Linked DNA regions of Homo sapiens: region 1 is linked to region 2. Evidence: fine-mapped expression QTL. A gene starts in region 2. The other region holds a variant in brackets. All regions are shown on one strand. Distances are between the middles of the regions. Region 1 has its middle 44 kb from the start of TOB1-AS1. Region 2 holds the start of TOB1-AS1 (TOB1 antisense RNA 1).

Region 1 (8,514 bases), 45 kb after region 2:
CTGCCTACCTCGGCCTCCCAAAGTGCTGGGATTACAGGCATGAGCCACCATGCCCGGCCAGGAGCTGATTTTGTATGAAGCAAAACTAATCAGAGCTTCTGAGCAGCATGTCCTGGTTTTGTTTCATACAAAACAGAATCCTGAATGAGTAATTACTGAATAAATGTACATTTATCATGTCCCTCATAATTCCAGCAATGAAACTTGACATTTTAGTTAAGCCAGTGTACCCTTCTCACAGATAAATATTCTATTTTCTGTTAGGATTTTATAAAGATAAAAAACAGCAACAGGTCTCTTTCTCCCTGCTCTTTTCTGATCTGGGGTGGGGTGTGGGGAGCCAGGAACAGGTGATCTTCCAGACCCCTTGTATTGCTGGGTTAGGAGGCCCACGTGTGTTCCATTGGCGAATACACTAGTCAATCATTAGGCCCATCATCAGTCCCACCTACCAATGCCTGGCCCCCATCAAAGACCAGTACAGAATAGAGAAGGGCCAGCAGGACCGGGGCAGAAAACCCTGCTCCCATCACAAACCCTTCTGCCTCTGCCCGCCCAGCCCACAATGAACACCAGAATTCAGAGCTACTGCCAGTGGAAATGGGAAGGGACCACCTCTGTGAGCACTTTAGGATTTCTCCAAGGGATGAGAAAGACTGGTTAAGAGTTCAGGGGGGCACAGTGGCTCACACCTGCAATCCCAGCACTTTGGGAGGCCGAGGCAGGAGGATCACCTGAGGCCAGGAGTTTGAGACCAGCCTGGTCAACATGGTGAAACCCCGTCTCTACTAAAAATACAAAAATTAGCCAGGCATGGTGGCAGGCACCTGTAATCCCAGCTACTGGGGAGGCTGAGGCAGGAGAATAGCTGGAACCTGGGAGGCAGAGGCTGCAGTGAGCCAAGATTGCGCCACTGCACTCCAGCCTGGGCAACAGAGTGAGACTCTGTCTCAAAAAACAAAAAAAAAAAAAAAAAGGCTGGGCACAGTGGCTCACGCCTGTTATCCCTGCGCTTTGGGAGGCTGAGGCGGGTGGACCATGAGGTCAAGAGATCAAGACCATCCTGGCCAACGTGGTGAAACCCTGTCTCTACTAAAAAAAAAAAAAAAAAAAAAAACTCTACTAAAAAACAAAAACAAAATACAAAAAAATTAGCTGGGCATGGTGGCATGCGCCTGTAGTCCCAGTTAGTCAGGAGGCTGAGGCAGGAGAATCACTTGAACCCGGGAGGCGGAGGTTGCAGTGAGCCGAGATTGCACCACTGCACTCTAACCTGGGGCGAGACTCTGTCTCAAAAAAGAAAAAAAAATCCATTCCCTACTGGACAGTCTACCATGATGTCTTAGAGGTGCCTCAAATTCAATTTGTTTAAACCAACCCATTGTTCTCCCTCTGGGGATGGGAGGGATGCCCCTCTGGCTGAAACCCCAACCTATACATCTGACCGTCAATCACCCAGGCTCTGCCTTCTGACCCTTAACTCCCCTCAGCCCCTGTCAGGACTTCTAGGCCAGAGCTCCAGTTCCTAATGGTGTTTTCTCCTTCACCTCCCTCAGCCCAGTCCTCACCAGGGCCCTCATGGCTCATGGTGGGGGCCTCCCATCTTCCCACCCATCACCACACTGGAGCCAGGGGGCTTTTTCACATCACCTGTGATTGATCATCCGTAGCCTTGATCAAAACCTTCAGTGACTTCATGCAAGGACACAACATGTATGCGAGACAATGGGGAGAAAAACAGGGAGTAACTAAAGTTCTTGGGGGAAAGGTGGTGAACCACTAATCACTCCAGACCTTTAATTTCACAAATGAGAGATATGAGACTCAGAGACACAGAGTACCCAGCTCAAGGTCACCCAGCAAGGCAGAGGGAGATGGTGTATTTGGGGGACAGTGACGCTCTGTCCCACCTGGCATGCTGTCCACCCCCCATGTCCTCACTGGGCACTGTACTCCAGCCACATGGAGCTTCTGTGTGCCCTAAACTTGAACAGCTCTTTCACTCTACTTCCTTCCTCATGTAGGCATGTCCTTCCTCTCCTCCCCACATCCACAGTCCTAGCCACCCGCCCAGGCCCAGCTCAAGTGCTGCCTCCTCCAGGAAGGCTTCCCTGAATGCCTATGCTGACCTCCTCTGCATGCCTTCCCTCCCATCACTCAGCATTCTCAGGTTTGGTTAGAATCATTCTTGGGCATGTCCTCCAGACAGGGTGGGACTTGTCTTACTCACCTTCATATCTTCAAGAGCACCCTGCACAGTGCCTGGCCTGTCACAGGTGCTCGACAGGTATTTCTGGAAGGAATTATCATTACATTTATATTGTCATTATGCATGTCTGGCATTGACAGTTGAGTCAGCCACTGTGCTCAGTGTACGAGTCAGAAGACATGCGTCTTCAAAACAGTCCCAACGATTAGCCCCATTTCACAGATGAGGAAACTCAGGCTCAAAGGAAATTGATTGCTTGCCCTGGGTCCCACTGCTGGAAGGAGGCAGAGTTGAAACTTGACCCCAAGTGCGGCTGATTCTAAAGCCTGTGACTCTTTGTTTTTGTTTTTGTTTTAAAGACGGAGTCTTGCTGTGTTGCCCAGGCTGGAGTGCAGTGGCATGATCTCTGTTCACTTCAACCTCCGCCTCCTGAGTTCAAGCGATTCTCCTGCCTCAGCTTCCCAAGCAGCTGGACTACAGGTATGTGCCACCATGCCCGGCTAATTTTTATAATTTTAGTAGAGACGGAGCTTCACCATGTTGGCCAGGCTGGTCTCAAACTCCTGACCTCAGGTGATCTGCCTGCCTCTGCCTCCCAAAGTACTGGGATTACATGTGTGAGCCATAGCATCTGGCCCAGCCAAGCCTATAACTCTTAATCTCTGTGTTCTCTCTGCAGCAGGGATGACGGCGCTCCTGGAGGCTGGCTGGGAAGCTGGTCAGGGTCCCAGGACTCTGACACCCCCAATGGCCCTTGTAGCCTTGGGGAGTCCTGTGATCCAAGGCTGGAGGACTGAGTCCCCTCCAGGTCTCATAGCAGACGAATAGCAGCTTCACCCAGGCCTGTTTTGTCGTGGCCCCATTCAGAGGCCGCCCTCCTCTGTGGTTTAGAGCATGCCCTGGAATCCCTAGCACAACCAGGTGACGAGAGTTCCCCGCTGGCCCCCTGCCGC[G/A]GGAACACAAAGTACCTTTGCACATAACCTTTCTTTGTCCTCTGCTGGTGACGGCAAATAGGGCAGGCCCAGGGCAACGTGGTAAGGTGGCAGAAGTTTGTTTTGGACAGTGTTTGCAGCTTCTCTGTTCCCTTTCCACCAGGGGTTACCTCCTGCTGGCTGACCCCTTCCTGTGCTGCGGGCTGGAATATAGGGTTTAACCCTGTTATAACCCAGAGGAACACAAAAGGAGGAACATCAGGCTTTATGGAGAGACTGGAAATGAAGTGGAGGTTTTCCTTGCTCATGAAACCTGGCTCACCCTACAGGTAGTCCCAAAGAGAGCTTGTGATTTTCTTTCCCCTTTGGTCCCCCGACCCCTTCAGAGCTCTCTGGGAAGCTATGCTCTCTCACTGCTTTCCCTCCCCTGATCAGAGTCCCTGTGCCAAGGCTCCTGGATACTGGGGCTGGAAAACCTCCTGTCCCTTCCACCACTCCTGTGCCCTCCAGGGAAGGGGTCTGGGGTCTCGGGGCTCACCCCCACCTGTGTGCCAGTCCCTGTGCTAGGCCTGCACAGACATCAGCTCGCTGATCACTACGAGAACCTCAACTCTTCTCCCCATTTCATGAGGACACCGAGGCTCAGAGGTGTTCGTGATACTCAAGATCACACTGCCAGAGCGTGAGTTACTGGGATTTGAACTTTGGTCCGTGTGGCTGCAAAGCCAGTGGCTGCTATGATTCTCTTTCCACTTGCTGCAGCCCACGTCCCTCTGGGCAAGTCTGACACCCTAGCTGCCCTCAACTGCCTGGCCCCGTGGCGTCCCAGAGGGCGAGGGGAGCACAGGGACTGGGCACAGAGGCCAGCTGGGGTCAAGGCAAGGGGGCTGCCCAGCACAGTGGTTCTGCTCCAGAGGTGCAGTCAGACTGCCTGGGTTGGCTCATGCCTGGGTCTGTCATTGTGGGCAGCGTGACCAGCCTAAACCTCAGTTTTCTCTTTTGTCACCTATGTGCTAAAAATACTTATTTCTGGAGATTCTTGTGAGGATTAAATGAGATCTTCCAAGCCAAGTGCTTTGCATAGTGACGCAGGGTAGGTGCTCAAGAAATTTTGTTGTCTGCCTGTGGTCTGGGTGGGGGCAGGGTGGGGCTGCGATGGTGAAGAAATGACACAGAAACCCACAGGAAACTTCATCATCTAGATGGTACATGGATGGCACATTCAAGGGAAGTAACGAAACGAGAAGAAAAAACTTTTACATTTTGGCTGAGCAAAGGCAACAATATAATTACCATCATTTATAAAAACTGCCTCCCATTAATGTCTAATTCCCACAAAGCGCAACAATGATTATCTCATTAACTATGTGTCAGATTAACTTTGTTGCAGGTTTTATTTGATTAAAACAGTGAACTCACAACACGTATTATGCTCATTCTTCATAGTTTGTGGTTTCTGGAGCATAGTCCTCTGTTGGCAACTTTTTCTAAATTAGAGGGCACGTTTCTGGGTAAGTTGTTTTTTAGAAATTTAGTTATCTGGAGTCCCAAAGCACCCAGGGTGGAGGGAAGGGCTCAGAGCTTCCTATTAGCTTCCACCTTTGGATTTGCTAAGGCCAGTGATGAAAGATGAATTATGTATCCATATTTTCAAGACTTTGGGGGCTGGGCTTGGGCTTGGGCCGGGCGCTGTGGCTCATGCCTGTAATCCCTGTACTTTGGGAGGCCGAGACAGGTGCATCACATGAGGCCAGGAGTTCGAGACCAGCCTGGCCAAAATGGTGAAACCCTGTCTCTACTAAAAATACAAAAATTAGCCAGTCATGGTGGCAGCACCTGTAATCCCAGCTACTCAGGAGGCTGAGCCAGGAGAATCACTTGAACCCAGAAGGTGGAGGTTGCAGTGAGCCAAGATCATGCCACTGCACTCCAGCTTAGCCAACAGAGCAAAACTCTGTCTCAAAAAAAAAAAGTCTTATTCGAATATTTTACTGTGTGCATTTGTATTACTTTTGTGACATATATAATTTTTTAATGTCTGGAAGCGGAAGATACTGTTTTTATTCCCTCCCCCTCCCCCTGGCCCCGATATATTGAAAACTCTAAAGTTGTTATATCCTGGATTCTGTTTCCTCCATGAGGAGAAAAGTTTGTTATCTGTCATATGCACTTAAGCACCTGATGTTTTTCTCATTTTCTGGTAGGTGGTGCAGACCCCTGTCCCCTCCTCCTCACCCCTACCTTAACAGGGAGAAGCTGCCTGTGGACAGCTCCCAGCTGCACAGGGAAATCGCTGAAGATTTCTAATAGGGAAGTGTCACACTTTGCCAACTCTGGAGAAGACAGAATAATTGGCTGGAATCGCAGACCGGGTCAGTGGTACAAGAGAAGGCAGAAGCTCGGTGGGGAGGGGTTGGTTCCCCAGCATTTGGCTGGGCATCTCCCACAATGCCAGACCAGAATCATTGTATCCTGAGGCTCGGGCCATTCCGTGGCCCCCGGTCATCCCCAGGAGCTGGAGTATGTGTCTGCTGCACTGTGGGAGAGCCCCTGCACCCACACTGAACCCAAGGGTGACCCTTTCCCTGAGATCAAGTGATGTAGAGGCTCAGGAAGAGCCCAGCTGCAGTGCTCAACTCCACCAGAAGGGAAGGGGAGGGAAGGGGGCAACAGAAACCCCTGTTGTCATGCAGAAAAGGAAAGCTTGTCTGGGAAAGGGTGTCCGCACTGTCCTTCCCCAGGGCTGTGCAGACCGATGGTCTGCAGGTACAAGTACCAAGCAGAGAGGGCCTGCTCTGATTCACACTTAGCTCTCTGGGAGAGAGACAAGGGCAAGCTTGGATCCTGGAGGACCAGAGAGAAAAGCCCCTGACCTAGGAGGTAGGAAGGGGAGGGCATTTATTTGTTCTATCTGCTCCTGATCAAAATGTAGTCTCCACATGTGGCCTGTGGAAACAGACCCCTCACCTCCAGCTCAAGGCTCCTGTGTACTGTCCTCCTCTAGTCCCTGTCTCTGTGGTCTAGCTACTTTGCCTCAGCCACTGGGCATCAGATCTGGGGCAGCATGGTCTAATAGAAATATAACCCGAGCCACACATAGAATATAATATTTTCTTTTTTCTTTTTTTTTGAGATGGAGTCTCGCTCTGTCACCCAGGCTGGAGTGCAGTGGCGTGATCTCGGCTTACTGCTTGCTGCAACCTCTACCTCCTGGGTTCAAGCAATTCTCATGCCTCAGCCTCCCAAGTAGCTGGGATTACAGGCGTGCACCACCATGCCTGGCTAATTTTTGTATTTTTAGTAGAGACGGAGTTTCACCATGTTGGCCAGGCTGGTCTCAAACTCCTGACCTCAGGTGATCCACCTGCCTTGGCCTCCCAAAGTGCTGGGATTATAGGCATGAGCCACTGCACCCAGCCAGAATATAGTATTTTCTAATAGCCACATTTAAAACAAGGAAACAGGTAAAATTAATTTTTTGAATATATTTTGCTTAACCCAATATGTCTAGAATATTATAATTTCAACACATAAACCATTTAAAAAGTAAAGAGATCTTTTATATTCTTTTTTCATACTAAATTTTCAAGATCTGGTTGGTATGTAGTTTACTCTTGTGGCACATCTCAGTGTGGACTAACTGTTCCAGTGCCCATGGGCACATGGCCATGGCTACCATATTGGAGAGTGCAGGTCTGGCACTTTCCTTGTGCCCTCCACTCCCCACAGGGGAGGTCAGAGGCCTCCTCAGAGGCCCCTGTCCAGACCCCTTTGCCTTTCCCTGACCCAGGAGCAAATCATCCTTTGGGTCGGGGTGCCCATTTATGTTTCCTTATTGGACAGTGGGGAAGGCAAGACTCCTGGACTGGGCATCAGAAGGCTCTGCCACTCAGCCTGCTGTGTGACCTGGAGCAAGTTACCTCCCCTCTCTGGGCACTGGCCTCATTCTCTGTCAGATGAATTTTCATTAGATTTGTGACTTTCAAACTGTGGAACCTGTTTTTCCAAGGCAATCTCATGCCGAACCCCCCATGTATAAATCACAGGAGAGTGGAGCTGCTCAAGGCACTGTGAGCTGCTGCCTCCAGCTCCCAGCCTGGAGATCACTCAGTGGCCAGGCCCTGGAGCACAGAGGGTGAAAACCTGGCACTATCAGTCTGCAACTCACATTTTCAGACCTAATTTTCTTTTTTTTTTTTCTTTCTTTCTTTCTTTCTTTTCTTTTCCTTTTTTTTTTTTTTTTTTTTTTTTTTGAGACAGACTCTTGCTGTGTCGCTCAGGCTGGAATGCAGTCTCAGCTCACTGCAACCTCTGCCCCTCTCCCAGTTCAAGCGATTCTCCTGCCTCAGCCTCCTGAATAGCTGGGACTACAGGCGCCTGCCATCATGCTGGCTAATTTTTGTTTTAGTAGAGACAGGGTTTTGCCATGTTGGCCAGGCTGGTCTCAAACTCCTGACCTCAGGTGATCCACCCGCCTCTGCCTCCCAAAGTGCTGGGATTACAGGCATGAGCCACCGTCCCGGCCTCACACCTAATTTTCTAAACCTGCAAATGACACCGTAGGTTGCTTATGGGCCCGTGTACATAGTAAAAGTATGAAAACATGCATAGGAAATGTGCTGGTTTCAAGTTAGTGGTCTCCTCTGATGAGGGAGGAAGAAGGATGGGCTAGGGATGTCACTTCCGTTCTATTGCCAAAATTTAATTTTTGATTGAAAGAGACCTAAAGAGAATAGAGTGAAATATTTACATGTGTCCAAATTTAGTGGTGGGTTTGTGGCTGAGATATTACTCTGTACTTTTCTGTATATTTGAAATATTTTACAACTTTAATTTGAAACTTTAAGAAGGACAAATAAATATAATCTGGTCTCACCTTAGGCATAGAATTTATTTATTTATTTATTTATTTATTTATTTTAGACGGAGTCTCGCTCTGTCTCCCAGGCTGGAGTGCACTGGCGCAATCTTGGCTCACTGCAACCTCCACCTCCCAGCTTCGAGTGATTCTTCTGCCTCGGCCACCCAAGTAGCTGGGACTACAGGCACGTGCCACCAAGCCCGGCTGATTTTTATATTTTTAGTAGAGATGAGGTTTCACCATGTTGGTCAGGCTGGTCTCGAACTCCTGACCTTGTGATCAGCCCACCTCGGCCTCCCAAAGTGCTGGGATTAGAGGCGTGAGCCACCGCATCCAGCCAGGCATAGAATATTTTTAAACGGTCAAGTAAAATGTAACTTTCCCTCCCCACAACACACTTGGTAATCCCTAAGACCCCCCACCGCCCCGACCATCTCCCTGCTCTGGTAGTTCAGGAATGTAGGCGCTCAATTGACCAAGGGTCAGGAGTTCTGAGGAAGCAGACAGCAGCT
Region 2 (8,534 bases):
AACAAAAGCCTCACCATGGAGCTGACAAACAGCTTAGCTCTGTTATTTCCAGTGCTTGTTTCCTTAAAACTTTGTATTGCTCTACACTGCATGGGTAAATGACAAAAGGCTTTTGTAGACTGGTGTCCAAAAAGCTCATGAGACCAAATTTATTTCACTGGTAACCCAGGCAGTGCTGGTTTCTTACTATAAAAGTACATATAAAGTTTTTTAAGACAGCTTTCTCACCAATACTATGTCAACACTGTATCAAATGGACGTTAACTTTCTCACCAATACTATGTCAATACTGTATCAATTGACATTTAGTGAAATGACTCATTTAGTGTTCTTCTCCCCAACTCTTCAGTTTTAAAAAACTCCATCCTCACCAAGCCACTCCAATTTGATACATTGTCAATATCTCTAAATCCTTCAAACCAGCAGGTTGGGTACCCACTTGCAAAAAATTAAATACATAAGCGTTTTTGCTGGGAAAATGAAAATGCTAACATCTAACCATCTGTCCAGCCGTGAATAGATTTTGACCATAAGTTCTCTAGCTATATGCAATAGCTAAACTTTAAAGATTAGTAAAGTGATGTAAATTTTTCTAAGTTCAGTCAGCCGTTTTGTCCAAGCAAGTTTCCTCAGCAAAAACAGAAAACTGATCCAATGCTCTCTCCATATAAATTTCAAATAAATCATCTCAGATTACACGAAGGAATTTCATCTTATCACCTGACTCCTCCATGTCAGCATGACATTTTGAAACTTGCTGTATAGCTAACCTTACCATACCATCTCTATAATGGGGTAGACAAATGTGGACTGAAGAGGGCTGTTAAAAAATAAAGTTGTACCAAGCACTGGTCAGGCTATAGTTTTGATAGCATTTTTTATGTGGCAAACCACGATCTGGTACATCAGTAGAGCAACTGCTTTCCATTATTCCTTCGTGACTCAATGAGTCAGGCCTTTTTCCATCATTAGCATTTACAACATAATAACTCCAGAGGTCGATCTTCAGAAAACACTTAAAAACAAAGACAATAGGCATTTTTAATTTTAAAGAATTTTAATACAAACTTAATATAAACTATTTCAGTCCCTCTTAACATGTAAGACACTGACTCAAAATACTTTTATACCGTTTTTTTCAAGTATTGCACAATATAGGTACAAAATTAATATTTACGATTACATTTTTCTTCCATAATATATAGCAAAAATCTTTAAACTTTTAACAGAAAATACATTTTTTTGAAAAAGCAAGTATTCGTACATTTTAATTCCACCACTAAAGGAATATCCTGTACACAATTTTTAGAATAGTTGATGTCTTTAAGATGGATATTTTACAATTTCAGTAAAAAAAATACAACATGAAGCTGCTGCTGTCACAGATCACTGTAGTAAAAAGATATAAATGCAATACCATGTCGTAGAAACAATATATATATATCCTCTGATATTTTACAAACTTTGTACTAAATTAAATTATACAATTAGAAAAGACCAATAAACCCACTTATTAGTGCCAATTTTTATAAAAAAAAATCAGCCATGTCCTTGCTATATCTTAAATACTGTAAGAGGCCATATCTGAGAGTATACTTTAAAATATACAGTCAGTATAAAATAACTTTGTGCTTGGTTGGCAAATGAAAAATGATGCATGTTTTATTATTATTTTTTTAACCAAGCTTGAATGTATCCTTACTATAAGCTTAAAAAAAAAAATTCTCAAGGAGGTGAAAAAAAAAATCCCCCTTGGGCCCGTGCATTTTAACTTGTACGATACATTTTCTTTTTTTTAGTTAGCCATAACAGGCTGGAATTGCTGGTTAGAATACTGCATGTTATTTAAGCTAAAATTCAAGCCATCTACAAAAGATTTCTCATTGAGGCCTCCATAGGCTGCAAACACATCAAAGGCATTACTGTACTGGAGAGGACTGAGGTTAAGGGGGCTGTCACCTGGGAACATTCCATTGGTACTACTACCTTGACCCTGCATATTAGGAAAAATAAATTCCTTGGCATTAGGAGAAAGAGCAGAGGTTTTCTGCTGTTGTTGCTGCTGTGGTGGTGGTGGTGGCGGTGGCGGCTGGGCTGGCTGCTGCTGTTGCTGTGGCTGCTGCTGGCTACCCAAGCCAAGCCCATACAGAGAGTGCATTGAGGAAGAGATGGCTTTCTGCTTCAAGAGGTCATTCACATTCAAGCCGAGGTTGATGGGAGAAGTACGTGCAACCTTGTTGCTACGGCCACTATTCTTCATTTTGGTAGAGCCGAACTTGGTGGCAGCAAAAGTGGCAGTGGTAAAGGTTAAAGGCTGAGTGGACCGGGGCATGAAGGTAGGGCTTACAGCAGCAGAGTGACCAAAAGGAGGCGATGGAGAGCTGGACACTGATGAGGCTGGGTCACTTATGGGCATAAAAACCTGGGCCTCTGGGTTAAAGCTGTTTTTGATCTCCTTATCCAACTCACATCCATTTTCATTATTATCATCCACGTAAAGCACCTTCACTGGTCCCTTTTCACCAATTTGGTAAGAAACCTCAAATGGGTCGATCCAAACACTAAGATCCTGTGGCAGATTGCCACGAACATCATCAATGTCCAAACCACTCTCTTTGGATGCTTGTTCAATCACTGGGTCCACTTTCTCCCCTATGTGTATACATCTAAACCCCGATCCTTTGTATGGCTTTTCAGGATACCAGTGCCCTTCATATTTCTTCTTAAGAAGTCTTTCAAGTTCTTCACCAAAAATGTTGACACGTCTCCTGGGAAGCTTATTGTACAAATACGAAATAATAAAATTTAGTGCTACTTGGATTTCAAGCTGCATAGCTGCTACGCCACAAAATTAGGTTTCAACTCCCCCACCAAAAAAAAAAAAAAAAAAAAAAGATGTTCAGTTTGTGGCAGAGAAACAAATTTTCATTCAAAGTGCTGGTATTAGTAGATTATCCTTCACCTTGAGTGATCTTGTTCCTTAAAACAAAAGCAAACATATCCAAATAAGATAAATGTAATATAAGTCCCATGACCTTCCCCCCTCCAAAGTAATTTCACCTTTCAAAATGTCTAAGATCCTGTGTTAGTCTGCTAAGGATAAAAAGAAAAAGAAAATGTCTACTAGGACAGAAAGCCTGAAAACTGTTACTAGCACAAAATAAACATAAAATAGAAAATCGTTTATTAAAGTTTAAAATGACACAGGAAAATGTAGATTTACAAATGAAATAATGCTTTTAAAAACCTGTTTCTGAATAGAGTTCTAAGAAGAAAAATCTCTAGAACATGCATTCTTCTCTCCTCAGTTCTCACAAGAATATTTATTGTACTCAGCATCCTCCCCCCACCCCCATATATATAGATGCCACTTTTAGGTAGTAATTTTTATTGTTATTCACCAACTTAGAAGTGAATCCATGTTTTAGTTTACTTTGGATATATACTGTTTAAATCTGCTCTGTCACTGACATTTAAAAATTTGGTTACGTTAGGAAGATCATTTTAATTTCCATAGTACATGATGCTAAAATTAAAGACACTGAGTACTAAATGAACTTCATCCTAGTAAATAATTATGAACCAAATTATTCTATATAGTTTCGGCCTTAAGTATACTAAGAGCATACAATATAATAAAATCCAGCTTCTCTGGGCCTTTTGTTTTCAATGTGTATTTTTCTAAATCTGAAAATACCTATTCGGCAGCAAGTATAACAAAAGCAAAGACACAAATTAAAACTATTGATTATTCTGTTTAAGGCCAGGGTTTCTGAGTTTTAGTCTGATTTTAAAAAACCTCCGTCTGTCCCTCTCTCCCTCCCTCCCTCTCACGGTAACAGCCGGAGAGGCAAGTATGGTAAGGTCGACCTTTAAACGTTTGCTGGATCAGCACTGGGTGGGGATAAGAAAAGATCAAGGGCAAACAGAAGATATTTGCGAAAGGGATCTATTTGCACACTGAAGTTGATTTAAAAGTACGTTTAAAAATCAAGTTGGTCTTAATTCGTCTGTTCTATTTTCCATATTCGTGGTGACAAAGGGAAAAAGAATCTCTGGCTGCCCCCAAACTACAAACACTTTCCAAGTCAAAAGCCTGAGTGCCGGCAGAGGCAGCTGATTAAGCCCAATTGCTTGAAGGTGCAGCCGAGCGAAATTCAGGCTCGGTGGAAGGTAGTTACAAAGCAACGCCTTAAGACAGGCAGGAGTGTGAAGAATTACATAAACAGCCAGTTAGATCTCATTAGATTTCTGCTCACAGCCCTCGGAGCCCAAGCGCTACAGCAGCAGCAACAGCAAGAGGAGGTGGAGGTGGAGGAGGAAGAGAGTACGAGCCTCCTCGGAGAAGGAGGAGGAAGGCCCGGGAAATGGAAGAGCAACCTCTCCCGGCTGGGCACCCAGCACCGAGCAGGTCGGGGCGCCGGGTCAGCCGCTCCCCTCCCCCGCCGTAACCCGACCCGCTGCTCCCCGCCCCGTGGCCCCCGCCCCGGGCTCCTGGGAGCCGGCCAGAGCCTGGGGGAGCACCGGTTCCTCGGCACCATTTTCAGCCTCGCGGCCACCGGCCCCTCGAACCCCAGCGTTCCACCGCGAGCTCGTCGCTCCTCCGGGCACCCCAACCCCCCAATTCCCGTCAGCTCGCCCCGGGCCGCCCGTCCCCGGCCAACTGCCCAGGACGAGCCCGACGCGCCGGCGGCCCCTCGGAGCCGCTCCCCTCGGGTCCTGGCGCTGCCCCCTCGGCGCCCAGGGCCGCGACCCCGCCGTCCCCGAGCTCCCGAGGGCCCAGGGCTCGACGCCGCTGCAGCCCCTCCTCCGCCGCCTGGGCCCGGGGCTCCCGTCTCCTCGCCGACCCCGCCCGGCGCCCCGAGATACTTACGGGCTGCTTCGGGGCGGCTTGGACCACAGACCCGCGGCTGGGCGGGGAGCAGCGCGGCAGGGCGGGGGCGCGGGAGGGTCGGGAGCGGCGAGCTCGCCGAGTGCAAGACGTTGCCGCTGCGGGGCTGAGGACAGAGGACAGAGGCCTCGGGCAGGCCTTGGGAGATCGCCGTTAGTGGCTCGGGGTGGCGGGCACGGGGGTCAGACGAGCGCGCTCACTTCTCCACACAGCCCGGTGCCCGGCCCAGCGTCCCCGTAGTGCGCCCGCTACACGCCGGGCCAGAGCTTCGCTCCTTCTGCCGCGGCGCGCGCCCCGCCTCTCGTTTTATGGCCTCCTCCCCGCCCCCATCCCCTCCGTCGGGGTGCGCGCGCCCGCTCCGCGTCACACAGCTCCGGCGGCGCAGCCATTCCCCGCGCTCCCCGCCCGGCACCCCGGTCCCCCGCCGGCCGGCTCCGCCCCTGCCCTGCCCCCCGACGCCATTGGCCAAGTCCCGCCTGCCCCTGTCCGGACGCGCGGCGGACGCAGGGGTGGGGAAGCCGCACCCTCCGGGCTCCAGGAGGGCCAATGAACCGACGATCGGAGCACTGGGGACGGAATGAAGAGAACGTCTGGAAAGGGACTGTGGGGGCAGACGTGCCAATGAGAGAGAAAGGGGTGGGGTAGGGCGGCTGACGCCCGGTTTAGGCGGAGAGCGCCGGGCAGAGGGGGAGGGGGACGAAGCTGGTGGCGAAGCGGCTCAGGAGAACCGGGGCTGGAGGAGCGGCAAGAGTACCCAGAAAGTGCCCTCTCCGCGGGGGTCTGCGGCCAAGGAGGATCCTGCTCGTGGAATAGCTACCAAATCGGCCTCCAGCCCACCCCAGGGGCGGGGTAGAGAAAGGGCAAACTGTGACCGGGACTTGTGCACCCGATTAATTGAATATTAATCACCCCAAGGCCTAGGCCAACCGCCACCCAGAGAGTGGCAGCTGCAGAACCCAAAGACGTGGAGCCGGGCTGGGGGTGGGGAAGGGAGGCCGCCACAGCTCCCGCCCCGCCGGCAGTTTAACTGCTTCCGCAGCCTCAGGCCTCCCGGTGCGACCCCGGCTGCGACTCGGATCCGTTTATTCCAAATGTCCCAGCCCACGCCGTGCCCAGAGTGTGGCGACACGAGGCCAAACTGCGTATGTATCTGTGTCCATGTCTACACACACACGCATGCGTGCATTTCTAGGGCTTGCTGGATCGCAGGTGCACAGAATAAACGCGGTGCCTGCTTGTAAAGCGCGTTTAAGATCATTCTTGGCTGAAATATGTGCGGGTACCTAGGGAGTGGGGTAAGAGAGGGACTCGTGGTGGGGGGCGGGTAAGTGCCTTTTTCACAACCTGCCCCAGAGAAATACACGAAATTACATCGGGAGTGGAATCGAGCGTCCCTCTCAGCTAAAAATATTACTCACAGGTAGCAACGACGCCTGATTGGCTGCGCTGGTCCCTTCGCAACGAGGCGATTGGCTGCCTGGTATCCAGGAGACCGACGTCAAACTCGGACTGGGAAAAGGGGAAAGTCTGGGGGGAGCGAAGGAGGGGACGGGGAGAAAGAAGCAATGAATGAAACGCCCATCGCCTGGCCTTCCCCTTTCCCCTTTCCCCTCTCCTCTCCATTCTTGGAGCACTTCCTGGAAAAACACCAGTTGGGGCGCCGCCTTCCCCTCCAAACGTTGGGGCCTGCACTCTCAACCTGCTATAAGGAAGTTAAACCGCAGCTCACCGAGGAGTAGGGTGTCTACGGGGCGGGCCCGTGTAGACCAGCTGTGCTCCTCGGGCACAAACCCGCCGTACATGCCAGGCCTAGAAGCTTTTGGCTTTGTGGACGCAAAATCTGGTTGGAGCCGCCTTCTCCACCCTGACTCTCCCGCCTCTCCTTTTTAGAAGGAACCGCACTGAGAAAGGGTATTTCTGAAGGCTCAATGCGTAGGAGAAGGGGTGGGAAGATGGGTTTGTGGAATGGGCTGAGGGTGGGGAGTGGTCAGGTGACTGATTTCATGTTTATTGTACAGATTCCTAAAACATAGTTTTACTAAGTGACTCCTTAAATTCTGATTAATGTGATTTTTTTTTTTTTTTGAGTGTTTGGGTTTTTTAGTTGCAAACAGGAGTGGAATTGAAATGTGAAAGTATGGCAAAACTGTGAAAGCATTTAAATTAAAATGTCCCTTCCTCTGCATTGAAATGTCATCAAAGCGTCAAATATAAATGATTTGTTCAGTTTTCTTTTTTTATTTGTTTGTTTTTGGTTTTCTGTAATGACAAGTCCATCTGTAATAAAAGTGAGTTATTTTTAGTTTTCTAATTAAGCACAGAAATTTCAAGAAACTAGACAGGATATCCTTGGAATGCCTTACCAAAAGAAACACTTCATTTTTCACGTGTTCTAGAAGCACAACTTCTTTTACCATTAGGCAAATAATGGTACTGTACCAAACATCTAGAACTGCGGGACCATGTGTCTTGATTAGTAATTTTATATTGGGGGGGCATATTAGGCATGGCTGAGACTAAAATGTCTAAAGATAGATGAATTGTAATTTTGTCAAACTTATCTGTACTTTTCAATAATTCTCTAAAGAGAAGGGACAAGTTCTCTTTTCTGAATGTCTTCAATCTGTAATTCCAGATTTGAAATATGAGAGCAGTCATCTGATAGGTACTGATTAAATATCAGTAGCATTAAAAGCATTTTTAAGTCAGAAATGTAGATGTCAAAAATTTATGAGTTATTGCTGCTTGGCCTAGGAGTGTAAGAAGATGTCTGACCAAATATAAACACACACACACACACCACACAAACAACACACACGGAGGCCCCATGGCATACTGGAAAAAGCAATGAAGGGTGGGTACTGGGAGGTCTGAGTTTCACACCAGTTTCAATAAACTTTTAGTTTTCTCACCTATAAAAAGGGTTGAATTAGATCATATCTAATGTCTCCTTCAATTAAAAAAAAATTCCACACTTGGCTGGGAGCAGTGGCTTACGCCTGTAATCCCAGCACTTTGGGAGGCTGAGGCAGGCAGATTACCTGAGCTCAGGAATTTGAGACCAGCCTGGCCAACACGGTGAAACCCCGTCTCTACTGAAAATACAAAAATTAGCCGGGTGTAGTGGCACACGCCTGTAATCCCAGCTACTTGGGAGGCTGAGGCAGGAGAATTGCTTGAGCCTGGGAGATGGAGGTTGCAGTGCGCCGCGATCGTGCCACTGCACTCCTGCTGGCCGACAGAGCGAGACTCTCTCTCAAAAAAATAAATAAATAAAATATTCCGCCCTTAAAACTCAATGTTCCTAACATATATACTGCAGCTGTTCTTCAAATACAGATTGCAAGTCAGGGCGCGGTGGCTCTCGCCTGTAATCCCAGTACTTTGGGAGGCCAAGGTGGGTGGATCATCTGAGGTCGGGAGCTCGAGATCAGCTTGACCAACATGGAGAAACCCTGTCTCTACTAAAAATACAAAATTAGCCTGGCATGGTGGCGCATGCCTGTAATCCCAGCTACTCGGGAGGCTGAGGCAGGAGAATCACTTGAACCCGGGAGGCGGAGGTTGCGGTGAGCTGGGATCGCGCCATTGCACTCCAGCCTAGGCAACAGGAGCAAAACTTCGTTTCAAAAAAGAAAAAAAA

The links.
Region 1: its variant is fine-mapped to the expression of TOB1-AS1 in thyroid (GTEx, PIP 0.98). The same link has a PIP of 0.9 or more in pancreas.

Annotation. Positions count from the first base shown.
Region 1 is chr17:50,906,268-50,914,781 of GRCh38, forward strand. No RefSeq gene overlaps it. Among named protein-coding and RNA genes, the nearest start is that of TOB1-AS1, 44 kb to the left of the region's middle. RefSeq lists enhancers at 2,564-3,474, 3,475-4,384 and a silencer at 3,001-3,295. The variant G/A (reference allele first, on the strand shown) is at 3,163.
Region 2 is chr17:50,861,185-50,869,718 of GRCh38, forward strand. TOB1-AS1 (TOB1 antisense RNA 1) reads left to right here and starts at 5,495. Exons shown (of 2, transcript NR_038458.1): 1 at 5,495-6,033; 2 at 6,312-7,187. It overlaps TOB1 (transducer of ERBB2, 1), which reads right to left and starts at 5,170. Exons shown (of 2, transcript NM_005749.4): 1 at 4,874-5,170; 2 at 1,039-2,979. The coding sequence starts at 2,833. The coding sequence ends at 1,796. RefSeq lists an enhancer at 3,786-3,835 and silencers at 4,376-4,985, 4,996-5,505.